Linked DNA regions of Homo sapiens. The protein of the gene in region 1 purifies or fractionates together with the protein of each later gene. This does not show direct contact. Each region holds a gene or a part of one and is shown on either strand. Other genes may lie near its edges. The genes, in order: ANKH, ABCD4 and LRIG1.

Region 1 (3,500 bases):
CTTGAGCTCAGGAGTTCAAAACCAGCCTGGGCAACATAGTGAAACCTCGTCTCTATTAAAAAAAAAAAAAGGCCAGGTGCTATAGCTCACACCTGTAATCCCGGCACTTTGGGAGGTGAGGTGGATGGATCACTTGAGGTCAGGAGTTCGAGACCAGCCTGGCCAACATGATGAAATTCTATCTCTACTAAAAAATACAAACAAACAAAAAATTAGCCAGGCATGGTATTGCATGCCTGTAATCCTAGCTACTCAGGAGGCTGAGGTGGGAGAATTGCATTGAACCCCAGGAGGCAGGGGTTGCAGTAAGCCAAGACTGTACCACTGCACCCTCCAGCCTGGGCGACAGAGCAAGACTCCGTCTAAAAAAAAAAAAAAAAAGAAATGCAAAATTAAAAAATAAAACCTCTCATGAGCTTTTAAGTTCCTGGCTTGTCAAGAACAAAACAATAGCAAAATTATGTTAAATGTTTCTTAGATGAGGTGTTTTATGATGATAAATATCACAGTTTATGGTTTCTTTTAAAAACATGTACAGATCTTTTGAAATGGAAATCCAGCTATGTATAAGATTCCACTGAAAGTTAAATAAGCTGCACATACGTGACCATGTAAAGGAATTACCTGTTAATGACCCCAGAGCCAGTGTGTGTGGAGGGGCTAGGAAAGAGCCTGTAACAGTCTCTCCAGAAACTTCTGATATTCTCCATGAACATTACCTGTTGTATATAGATTTCTTAGTCATTTTATAGCTCAGTCAGGGAGGAAACCAAATCTTATGGACTATTTCCTCTAACAAAACTAGCAAAACCTATTATCACATTTTTTCAATTTTGGTAGTGGCAGTAATTTGAGGTGGTGGGGGGAGCGTTTGAATTTTGTACTAAAAAAAGCTCTATGGAATAAAATGATCTGCTTTTAATATTAAACATAGGCACCATAGAAAATGGGAACACCTTTGGGAGGCCGAGGCGGGTGGATCATGAGGTCAGGAGATCGAGACCATCCTGGCTAACAAGGTGAAACCCCGTCTCTACTAAAAATACAAAAAATTAGCCAGGCGCGGTGGCGGGTGCCTGTAGTCCCAGCTACTCGGGAGGCTGAGGCAGGAGAATGGCGTGAACCCGGGAAGCGGAGCTTGCAGTGAGCCGAGATTGCGCCACTGCAGTCCGCAGTCCGGCCTGGGCGACAGAGCGAGACTCCGTCTCAAAAAAAAAAAGAAAATGGGAACACATCTCCTTTTGCAGAAACTGAAGAAACGTTTATATTATAGAGCCCTATAGGTATATAAAATACTTTACAATCATTGTATATCTAGAATTATTTTATCTCAATTTTTACAGATTGAGAATCAAAAGTATTAATCACGTACATTGATTGAGCACCTAGTATGTGCCTGTATCTCAGCATATGATATATATGAGGAAACAATGAGAGGCCTACGCTTGTTAAGGTACTTGTTCAAGATGACACGGGTAGTAAATGGCAGAGCTAAGGTTCAAGCCCATACCCACCTGGTCTTTATAAATTTAGGAATAAGTTCTAGCTTTTCTGATTCCCAGACTAGGTCTAAATTTAATCTTAGCTGTCGTATATTGAATTTTTTTTTTTTTTTTTTTTTTTGAGACTGAGTCTCACTTGTTGCCCAGGCTAGAGTACAGTGGTGTGATCTTGGCTCAATGCAGCCACCATTTCCCAGGCTCAAGCGATTCTCCTGCCTCAGTCCCCCGAGTAGCGGGGACTACAGGCGTGCACCACCACCCCCGGCTAATTTTTGTATATTTTGTAGAGACGGGGTTTCACCATGTTGCCCAGGCTGGTCTTCAACTCCTGAGCTCACGTGATCCACCTACCTTGGCCTTCCAAAACGTGAGCCACCACATCTGGCCTGTATATTGAATTTTAAAAACTCAACAGATGTAGGATGATTAAAAGGAGGGCTTCCAGGAAAGGGATATTATGACCAAGAAGTTCATTTTAAGAAAAGCTTAATTACCCAGATAATTAAGTCAACACTGTATCTTATTTTAACAAGGTTGGCATAGCTTTTGGTCAAGGGGGGATGAAAGAAACAACTGATACCTCACAATAAAGTTATTTAGAAGTCACTTGGTCTTTGTCATTAAAACAATACAGATTGCTAAGGAAAGGAGCATGTTGAGATAGTTTTTAAAAAATATATTTCTTTTAAAGTATCTGCAAATGTCCATTTGATCTCACCATGTCCAAAGAATTGTTATTCTGTTTAAATTTGGTTCAGAGTCCCCAATTTCCTTAAAAGCCAAATTCACCAAATGACATAGAACAAATTAGTGAGCTTTTTAAAAAGGTACTCAGTATTACTTAAAATATTAAGGGCAACGTTGCTGTGAAGACCTTGAAGGAGAAAAGAAAGTTGAAATTGTTCTCACTTAAGAAATGTGTTCTGCCTAGGGCCAGGTGATCTACTCTTTCATGCTCAAAGGAGAAATGGTGCCAGGCGCGGTGGCTCACGCCTGTAATCCCAGCACTTTGGGAGGCCAAGGCAGGTGGATCACCTGAGGTCAGGAGTTCAAGAGCAGCCTGGCCAACATGAAGAAACCCCGTCTCTACTAAAAATACAAAATTAGCGGGGCATGATGGCAGGCACCTGTAATCCCAGCTACTTGGGAGGCTGAGGCAGGAGAATCTTTTGAACCTGGGAGGCGGAGGTTGCAGTGAGCTGAGACCGCACTGAATACCTCAATACCTTTCAGATACTTTAGATATTTCAAATTGCCTTGTATGATTCACTGAATTTGGTTGGGTCTAATATGATAATTCAAAGACCAGAGCTGTTTATCTGTGAATGGAGAGTTTTGCACATGAATTGTGACAATTCCTGGAATAAGATGTGTAATAGGAGTGTTCATATATCTTCAGCCCTTTCTATTTAGGAAACCTAGAGTTAGGCTTCCACAGTATAAGAGGGTTCCAAATTATTAATATCACAAGATGGACAAAAAGAGAAGCCCAGGAAAAATAGCTTGGAGAAGTGCACCCTCTCCACACCTCCTCCCAAAGTATAACAAAAGTATTTCATTCGATTAGGAGGAATAGGAATAAAAAGGACAGATGCAGTATATGGCACTGGCTTCAACAGGGAAGAGACTCTTCATCAAAAGTCACTGAGCAATGGAGAGGACCTCCTTTGACAGTGCTTAAGAGCTTGCCTTAAGGAACATGACAGGGATCTGTTGTAAGATCCACTTCCTAAAGTGCTTAAAGAAAGAAATGGAAATCTCAAGCTAAGGCTCCGAGTCACTGTGAGGGAGACTTTCCCCCTCCAGTCTATTCTGTAGTAACAGAATAAATTTCAAAATAATTATTTTTCCTAATTATAAATAGAAGTAATATCAGCTAATTGTTTAAAGTTTGGTAAATATTTTTTAAATGTGAAAAAATGCCTCTAATTTCACTCCTAAAACTCATTTAACAATTTGGGTATCTCCTGCCAATTTATTATTTTATTTAATTTATTA
Region 2 (3,724 bases), on another chromosome or scaffold:
GCCTTCGCCTCCTGAGTAGCTGGGATTACAAGCACCCACCACCACGCCCGACTAAACTTTGTATTTTTCAGTAAAGACAGGGTTTCACCATCTTGGCCAGGCTGATCTCGAACTCATGACCTCAGGTGATACACCCGCCTCAGCCTCCCAAAGTGCTGGGATTACAGGCGTGAGCCACCGCGCCCGGCCCCTTTTCATCTCTTTGGGGTGCTGATGAGGCAGGGACTCAGGAAGAAGCCTCCCTTCTTTTTAACCCCTCATCACTGATTTCTTACTCCTCTCCCTCCTTTCAGAGCAATTTGTGATCTACCAGGTTGGCTTGATCCCCAGTCAGTACTATGGGGTCCTGGGAAACAAAGACTTGGAAGGGTTTAAGACTCTGACATTCCTGGCTGTCATGCTCATTGTTCTGAACTCCACGGTAAGATCTTTCCCTCTCTCTGTGTCTCTCGTCCTCTCCAGTCCAGTGTGACCGTAATGCCTAGTGGAACTTAGCCTCCAGGAAGCAGGAAGCAAGCTGTGGGGGTGTGTTTCCTCCCTTTTCTGGGAACTAAAGGGATAGTTGCCTTTATTAAGCACGTTGATCTTGCTATTGGCCCACGTGGGACTGATTCCTCAGATGTTTCCACTCCTGGGCCCAGGCCACAGGTTCTGGTTTAATTCAGCATTTAGCAGAACTGATCATTGCCCCTTTCCTTCCTAGAACTCTTATTTCCGGCAGCTCATTAAAACGGCTCAGCAGCCAGAGCTGCTGCTCCTCCTCTGCGGGACCGAGGCTGTGACTCACCCTGGCACCATGTCACACCTCCCAGCCTTTGAACAGTGCTTTCTTGCAGAATGGCCTCCTCCCCTACCCCTCATTCAGTAGGGGGGCTACCACCTGCTCACTCTTCGTCATCCCTCCGTTGTCACCTCTTTCAAGTCTTTCTCAGCTTTCTCCTTTGTGTCTCCTCCACCAAACTCTGCCCTTTTTCTGTACTTAACGAATTCCTTGAGTTTACCTCGCTGTAACACTCCTCACACGCTTGTAATTGTTTTCTGGCTAAACTGTGAGCTCATAATGTCCCTAGTGCTTAGCACATAGGTGCCCTGGAAATGGTAAATGATGAGACTCAGGGCTGTACCAGAACTCAAGCCTAATGCTGTCTGCCAGGCTGTGCCACCTGTTTTCTTGGGGAAGCCACTGCTCATCGTACCATGGCCACTTTTGTTGGGTCTTCGGTCAGTAAGCACCTATGCATACAAATCTCTGTCCCAAGCTTGGGGGACAAAGGAGTAAGAACATAAATGGAATCGACAATATGGTCTCCAATCTTCAGAAGCTCATCTACTCTCAAAATAAGACAGTGTAGAAAGAGGGTCTTGCCTCTGGTAAGCCCTTTAATATTTGGTGAAGGAGGCTGGGTACAGTGGCTCACGCCTGTAATCCCAGCACTTTGAGAGGCCGAGGCGGGCGGATCACCTGAGGTCGGGAGTTCCAGACCAGCCTGACCAAGATGGAGAAACCCCGTCTCTACTAAAAATACAAAATTAGCTGGGCGTGGTGGTGCATGCCTGTAATCCCAGCTACTCGGGAGGCTGAGGCAGGAGAATCGCTTGAAACTGGGAGGCGGAGGTTGTGGTGAGCCAAGATCGCGCCATTGCACTCCAGCCTGGGCAACAAGAGTAAAACTCCATCTCAGAGAAAAAAAATTTGGTGAAGGAATGAACACGTGAGTGAGTGAGGAAGGGAAAGTCCCATGACTCGATGATTTAAAAAAGAAAAGTGCTGAGTGGACGGAGTAATCAGAGTCAGAGTGGGCTGGGATGGGTCAGCGGAGGCTCTTGCGAGCCTTGAGCTTTGAGCTGAGATTTTCAGGAAGCCATCTCTCCCTTCCCCTTGCTTCCCCCACTGCACAGCTGAAGAGCTTTGATCAGTTCACCTGCAACCTGCTGTATGTGAGCTGGAGGAAGGACCTCACTGAGCACCTTCACCGCCTCTACTTCCGGGGCCGTGCGTACTACACCCTCAACGTGCTGCGGGATGACATCGATAACCCGTAGGCGCCCCAACTCAGTCCTTTCTACACTCTGTGTGGTCCTTTCCTTCTGGCCTAGCCCTGGAGACTGCTGGTGGCAGACACCAAGGAGATCATCTGCAGTCGTTTTCAAATGCTGCTGCCCAGAGTCATGGGGGAGGGTGCCCTGCAGAGGACTCCTGGAGAAGCTGCAGGGCTGTGAATAGGCAGCTAAAAAGAAGAAGCCTGCCAGGTGCAGTGGCATGCACCTGTAGTCCCAACAACTCAGGAGGCTGAGGCAGGAGGATCACTTGAGCCCAGGAGTAGTGCACCGTGAGCACACTTGGGAATAGCCACTGTACTCTAGCCTGGGCAACATAGCAGAAACCCCCATCTCTTAAAAAAAAGAAAAATGTTAGGAGCAGCTTTCTTTTGTCCTTTTCATACTTTATATCTTAGTCTTCCAGTAAGAAGACTAAGGGGTTTCTTTAGAGGGTTCTAAAGAAAATGTCCTTGCTAGAAAAACCAGCTCTTAGATTTTCATCAGTAAAAAAAATTACCACTATCCAGGACTCAGTCTAGGATTCACATCTCCATTCTATCACCACTCAGGTTATAACTCTTAAAGTCACCAAGCCCCAGGTTCCCCTTCTGTAAAATGAGGACAATAATAGTTCCTATCTCAAAGGGTGTAGTGAGGATGAAATATCATTCATGTAATGCACATGTACAGTGCTTGACACATAGCAAGTGTTTCAGTGTAAGTTAGCTATTGTTATTTTACAGATGAGGAAGCTGAAGCCCAGAGATTGCAAGTGACTTGCCCAAGGTCACGTCACTCATTGGGAATAGGAATCAGTATGGCCCTAGTGGTGAGATGAGACATAGGGGGTCTCCTTCACACCCATCCCCTCACTCACCACCTTCCTAGCAAGCACTTTGTTGGTTGGGGTACCTCTCAGCTCAAGCTTAGCTTTGGTGCAAAGATGCGTGGGAGGCTGCTGCTGCTGCCTAACTTCTAGGCCTCTTTCTGATGGCTATGGCTTCCATCCTGCCTCTGCCCCCTGAGTAGCTGGGACTACAGGTGTGCCTCACAGCCTGGAGCTTTCACAGCCAGATAACTAAAGGGGCCAGGCTAGGGCTTATATAAGAGAAATTTGGGAGGATTGAGATAAAGGGGATAGTCTTCTTGATCATCCAAAACAGCTCATCTACCTTCAAGTTTTTCTTTGGCTCTGCTCAGAGCTGGCTCAGGCCCCTGGGTACTGGACCTTTCAGTTCCCACTTTTTCAGGGGATTAACTAAGGCACCGTAAGATGCAACTCTCTAGAACCCTGTTTAAAGGCCCTGGGATTTAGTTGCCCCTAGGAAACCAGCCTTGTCTGGTTCCCTCTTCCCATAGGGTCAGTGTTCACAGCACTGTGAGGCAAGGTCAAGAGCAGAGGTGATGTGAAAGTTTCTTGTTCTCTCTACCTTTGGGCCCATCTCCCTGGGTCCAGCTACTCTGTGTCATTGGCTCCAGGGACCAGCGCATCAGCCAGGACGTGGAGCGATTCTGCCGGCAGCTCAGCAGCATGGCCAGCAAGCTCATCATCTCCCCGTTCACCCTCGTCTACTACACTTACCAGTGCTTCCAAAGGTGAAGCCTCCCTCCTCCCCAGCCTGGTGTTTCCCCAGAGGGCCCTCAGTCAGCTCTCCCAGGTCAAGGTCCAAGAGAAGCTTATTTC
Region 3 (3,724 bases), on another chromosome or scaffold:
GACGAGAGATGCACTGCAGTATTCCCATGGTTTAGAGAAAAAATATTCAGGACTTGGAAGTTGCAGCTGAAGACTCAAGATGGGAAAGACTGACCCACGGCTGCCGAACTGGAGGCTGCACCAGGCGCTCAGCGTGGGGAAGCTTTTTCCAACACTAGGAGCCAGCATCCTGTCCAGCACAACGTGGGCATCACTGCTTGAGAACAACTACTTTTTAGGAGCTGCCATCCCTCTCTAGGCACCATCCTGGGGAAATGAGAGATTTTTCTGCTTAACCAGTTCTTTTTCAGTTGATTACATAAAAGTTTGAGACTCTGCACATAGAGCAAGCCAGCTTTGGATCCAATTCTGACTCGAAGCCAACGCAAATGGAGTTCAACAAAGCAGATGGTTTGCTCTATTCTGCTCTCCCCACTGGGGACCCCTTTATCCTGTCAGTAGTGGGAGACGTACAAGACTCGCAGGCTCCTGAGTCCCTTGAAGGCACCCTCCGCAATGTGGCTGATGGAATTGTGGCTGAGACGCAGGACACTCAGGCTGCTCAGCTCGGCCAGGCTCTCCTCGTCCAGCCGTGTCAGGTTGTTGAAGGACAGGACCCTGAGGAAAGGGAGGGCAGCAATGTCACCATCTAGTGTGGTTGCCCCCCAACCCCACCCCACCGGAAATTGGGCCACAGTCAGCTGGGTTTCAGTGGGAAATGACACAGATGCACACGCACGCGCGTGCGTGCACACACACACCCACACCCACAGAATCCTGGGGGTAAAAGTGGCCATGCAGCTAGAAACTCATCAGTGCCCAACACACTAGTCTGACTCGTAGAATGGGTGCATAGGTCACAGGGGCCAGGGTGGCTGTTAAACTGTGAAGACTACACACGAGGTCATGACACACAACAACTCTCAAGCTCCAGCGCCTTCATGCTGTCCAAGGCAGCTCCTGATTCAGGCTACAAAAGACCTCTCTCATAGCAGAAGCCTGGGATTCTGGAGATGACCCCGCAGCAAGCCAGGGAGCCCCAGTCACACTCCCTGCATCTGCCAGCAGAGGGCACCACTAGCCCCTGCGTGGGACAACCACACCTGTGCCTCATGCCTTAGTGGGGCAACTCCCCCAGGGCAGGAGGCTCCTGCTCAGGCCTCCCTGCCCCCATCCACGTGGACCTCAGAGCATGATCCCCTACTGCAGGCGGTAAAAGCACATGCTTTGCCCGAACCTCAGAATCAAAGCTTCCTCCCAGCACTCCTGCACCTCTGGGTTGCTTACGTGACATATTGGTCATCTATCGTTGAAAAATTGGGGCTGGGGCAGGGATAGGAAGATGGAAAATAAACTCAGAGAAGATTAATGAGCTTTTAAAGGCAGCTAGGAGCAGCATTCTTTCCCTCCTGGACAAATAAGTCAGGGTGTCTGTCAGTTAAACAGACCTGGCAGGAGATCAAAATTATATCCTCACCTGCAATTAAAGAATTTAGCTTAAAGGAGGGGTGGGAAACACATGCTGGGAAGCAATCCCAAATCTGCCTCTGAGGTTACCTGGATATGGTGCAAACTGCTAGGACTGCTCAAGCGCACTTCTGTGATCTTTGCTGCCCCTTCTAGAGGGCATGGAAGAGGGCTTCATGCCTTCCACCAGCTAGAGAGGGGATCCCGGACCCCGCAGAAGACAGCATGCCATCCCTGGGGCCACGATACACTGGTGAGTCAGAGGATGGCCCCTCACTTTAAGAATTGGACTGGCTCAGGCTTCGGGGACTTAAAAGACCTCTCTTGCTTCCCACACCTCCCGGCCCTGACCAACAAAACCAGGAGTCCCCTGGTGGGGTCACAGCTTGACTACAGAGCCTGAAAGGAGCCATCCAGCACCACATGGAATGCACAACTGCAGGCCCTGAAGCGTAGGAAGCTGAAACCAAAGGGTTAACACTCACAGAATCCAAGAAAAGTTAGGAAAGAGGCAGGACCACTGTGTTTTGCATTAGATAATGATGGAGTCACCAAAATATAAACTCCAAGTCAGTGTGTGTGTGTGTGTGTGTGTGTGTGTGTGTGTGTGTGTGTGTGTGTGGTGGGGGGAGGGGGGGAGGAGGAGGGAAGGAAGGACAGGGAGAGAGAGGAGAACACAGAAGACCAGACACAAACACCAGCTGCAAGAATCCACATTAGATTCACGCATCCCCTTGAGTTTGCCTGGTGAGGTCAAGAGAGAGACAGGACAGACTGAGGCTTGGCACTCTTAACAATCATTCACTTCAGTGGGTGAATTTTTTCCAACAGCCAAGCCTAGAAAAGGAAGAAAAAAACAAAACAAAACAAAAAAACCCACCCAACTCTTGTGAAAAATAAAGAAACACAGTAGACTAAACTGGAGCATATCAAATGGAAAGAACAGTGAAAACACAAACTATAGACTTGTAAAGATGTTCTCTGAGTCCTTAGGAATGCTGCGTTCACTGTCCAGTAACCCCACCCTGACATGATGGGGTGGCCAGGGCCACTGCCCATCGCTACCCAGGCGACAGTCTGTCACTACTAATCTCAGAACTTTGGGCAAGACAAGCTCAGTTCTCAGTCTCAACCTGGGACCCCTGTCTGGAAATCTCCAAAAGGAGCAAGAGGACCACACCACACATCTCTGAACTAAGCACGCACACGACTGCACAGGAGCCTCTGCCAGCAGGCCACTGCGGTGCAAAACAGAGAAAGGGAAGGGGCCAAGAACCTGGGCAGCTCATCTACAGGAAGGAAGGTGGCGACTCCGAGGACACAAATTCATCCACAGTCAGCGTTTCACTGTCTCTGTTTGAGCCCAAATGACCCCCTCACTGAAGAAGCACATGCTATTTGGTGTGGCCATTAACACACAGTCACTCTCAAAATGGCTCCTGTGAGCACTCTGCCATAGCTGCCCTTCCCCAGGAACTTTCTACCCCTGGAACTGTCTCCAAACCCAACAGGACCTTGGGGGCCAAGGCTCCCTGCAGGGACCTAGCTGCTACTCCTGGAGCCCCTGCTAATCCAAATGCAGAGGAAGTGAAGGGGAGATGAGGAAGGGACTGGGGCTCAAATCGCTGAGGGTTCCACCCTGGGCCTGGCTGGTTTGGGAACAGGGCTACTGGCCTGTCTCTGAGCCCTCCCCGAGGCCACTGTGTGGTGGAACGAACCAGGCCTAGCACTTTCACCTCCAAGCAGTGTCTAAAAACACTGCCACAGCCCAGAGCCGAGGACACTTACAACTCATGCAGCTTCTGGCAGAAGCTCCAGCCCTTGCGGTGAATGCGAGCGATGGAATTGTTGCTGAGGTGGAGCTGATGCAGGGCCGTGAGGCCGTAGAGCGAGCCGCTGTTCACTTCTACCAGGCTGTTGTACTCCAGGTGCCTGCAATGACAGCCATGCACAGGATGAAGAGGAGCTTTCACTCCCTTCACTGGACAGACAGCAAATGAGCAGCCACGCTGTACCTGACACTGCGGTCACACCAAGGCTAGAACAGTGCACGACAGAACTGTGGAGTCTAGTCGCACACATGTGCATGTGAGTAGGGGCTGGGAGAAGACAGGCAAATCAAAATGGATGACAGCACATGCCAAGGCCGACTCGAGTGTTCATAGGGCAAGAGGGAGCTTCCTAGAAGTGACTTTTTTGGCTGAGTAAAAGTGAACCAGGGCTGGGTGTGGCGGCTTATGCCCATCCAGTACTTGGGGAGGCCGAAGAAGGAGGATCG

Evidence for each region.
Region 2: the proteins of ANKH (region 1) and ABCD4 purify together in Homo sapiens (co-immunoprecipitation; one large-scale study listed by IntAct). This does not show direct contact.
Region 3: the proteins of ANKH (region 1) and LRIG1 purify together in Homo sapiens (affinity purification with mass spectrometry; one large-scale study listed by BioGRID and IntAct). This does not show direct contact.

The regions. Positions count from the first base shown.
Region 1 is NC_000005.10:14,865,279-14,868,778, reverse strand, and holds part of ANKH (mineralization regulator ANKH), read left to right. Parts: intron 1-3,500. UniProt on the Homo sapiens protein: Transports adenosine triphosphate (ATP) and possibly other nucleoside triphosphates (NTPs) from cytosol to the extracellular space. Mainly regulates their levels locally in peripheral tissues while playing a minor systemic role.
Region 2 is NC_000014.9:74,296,245-74,299,968, reverse strand, and holds part of ABCD4 (lysosomal cobalamin transporter ABCD4), read left to right. Parts: intron 1-293; coding exon 294-421; intron 422-1,899; coding exon 1,900-2,039; intron 2,040-3,519; coding exon 3,520-3,636; intron 3,637-3,724. UniProt on the Homo sapiens protein: Lysosomal membrane protein that transports cobalamin (Vitamin B12) from the lysosomal lumen to the cytosol in an ATP-dependent manner. Targeted by LMBRD1 lysosomal chaperone from the endoplasmic reticulum to the lysosomal membrane.
Region 3 is NC_000003.12:66,406,895-66,410,618, forward strand, and holds part of LRIG1 (leucine-rich repeats and immunoglobulin-like domains protein 1 isoform 1 precursor), read right to left. Parts: intron 3,598-3,724; exon of another isoform or gene 3,579-3,597; intron 3,379-3,578; coding exon 3,235-3,378; intron 598-3,234; coding exon 454-597; intron 1-453. UniProt on the Homo sapiens protein: Acts as a feedback negative regulator of signaling by receptor tyrosine kinases, through a mechanism that involves enhancement of receptor ubiquitination and accelerated intracellular degradation.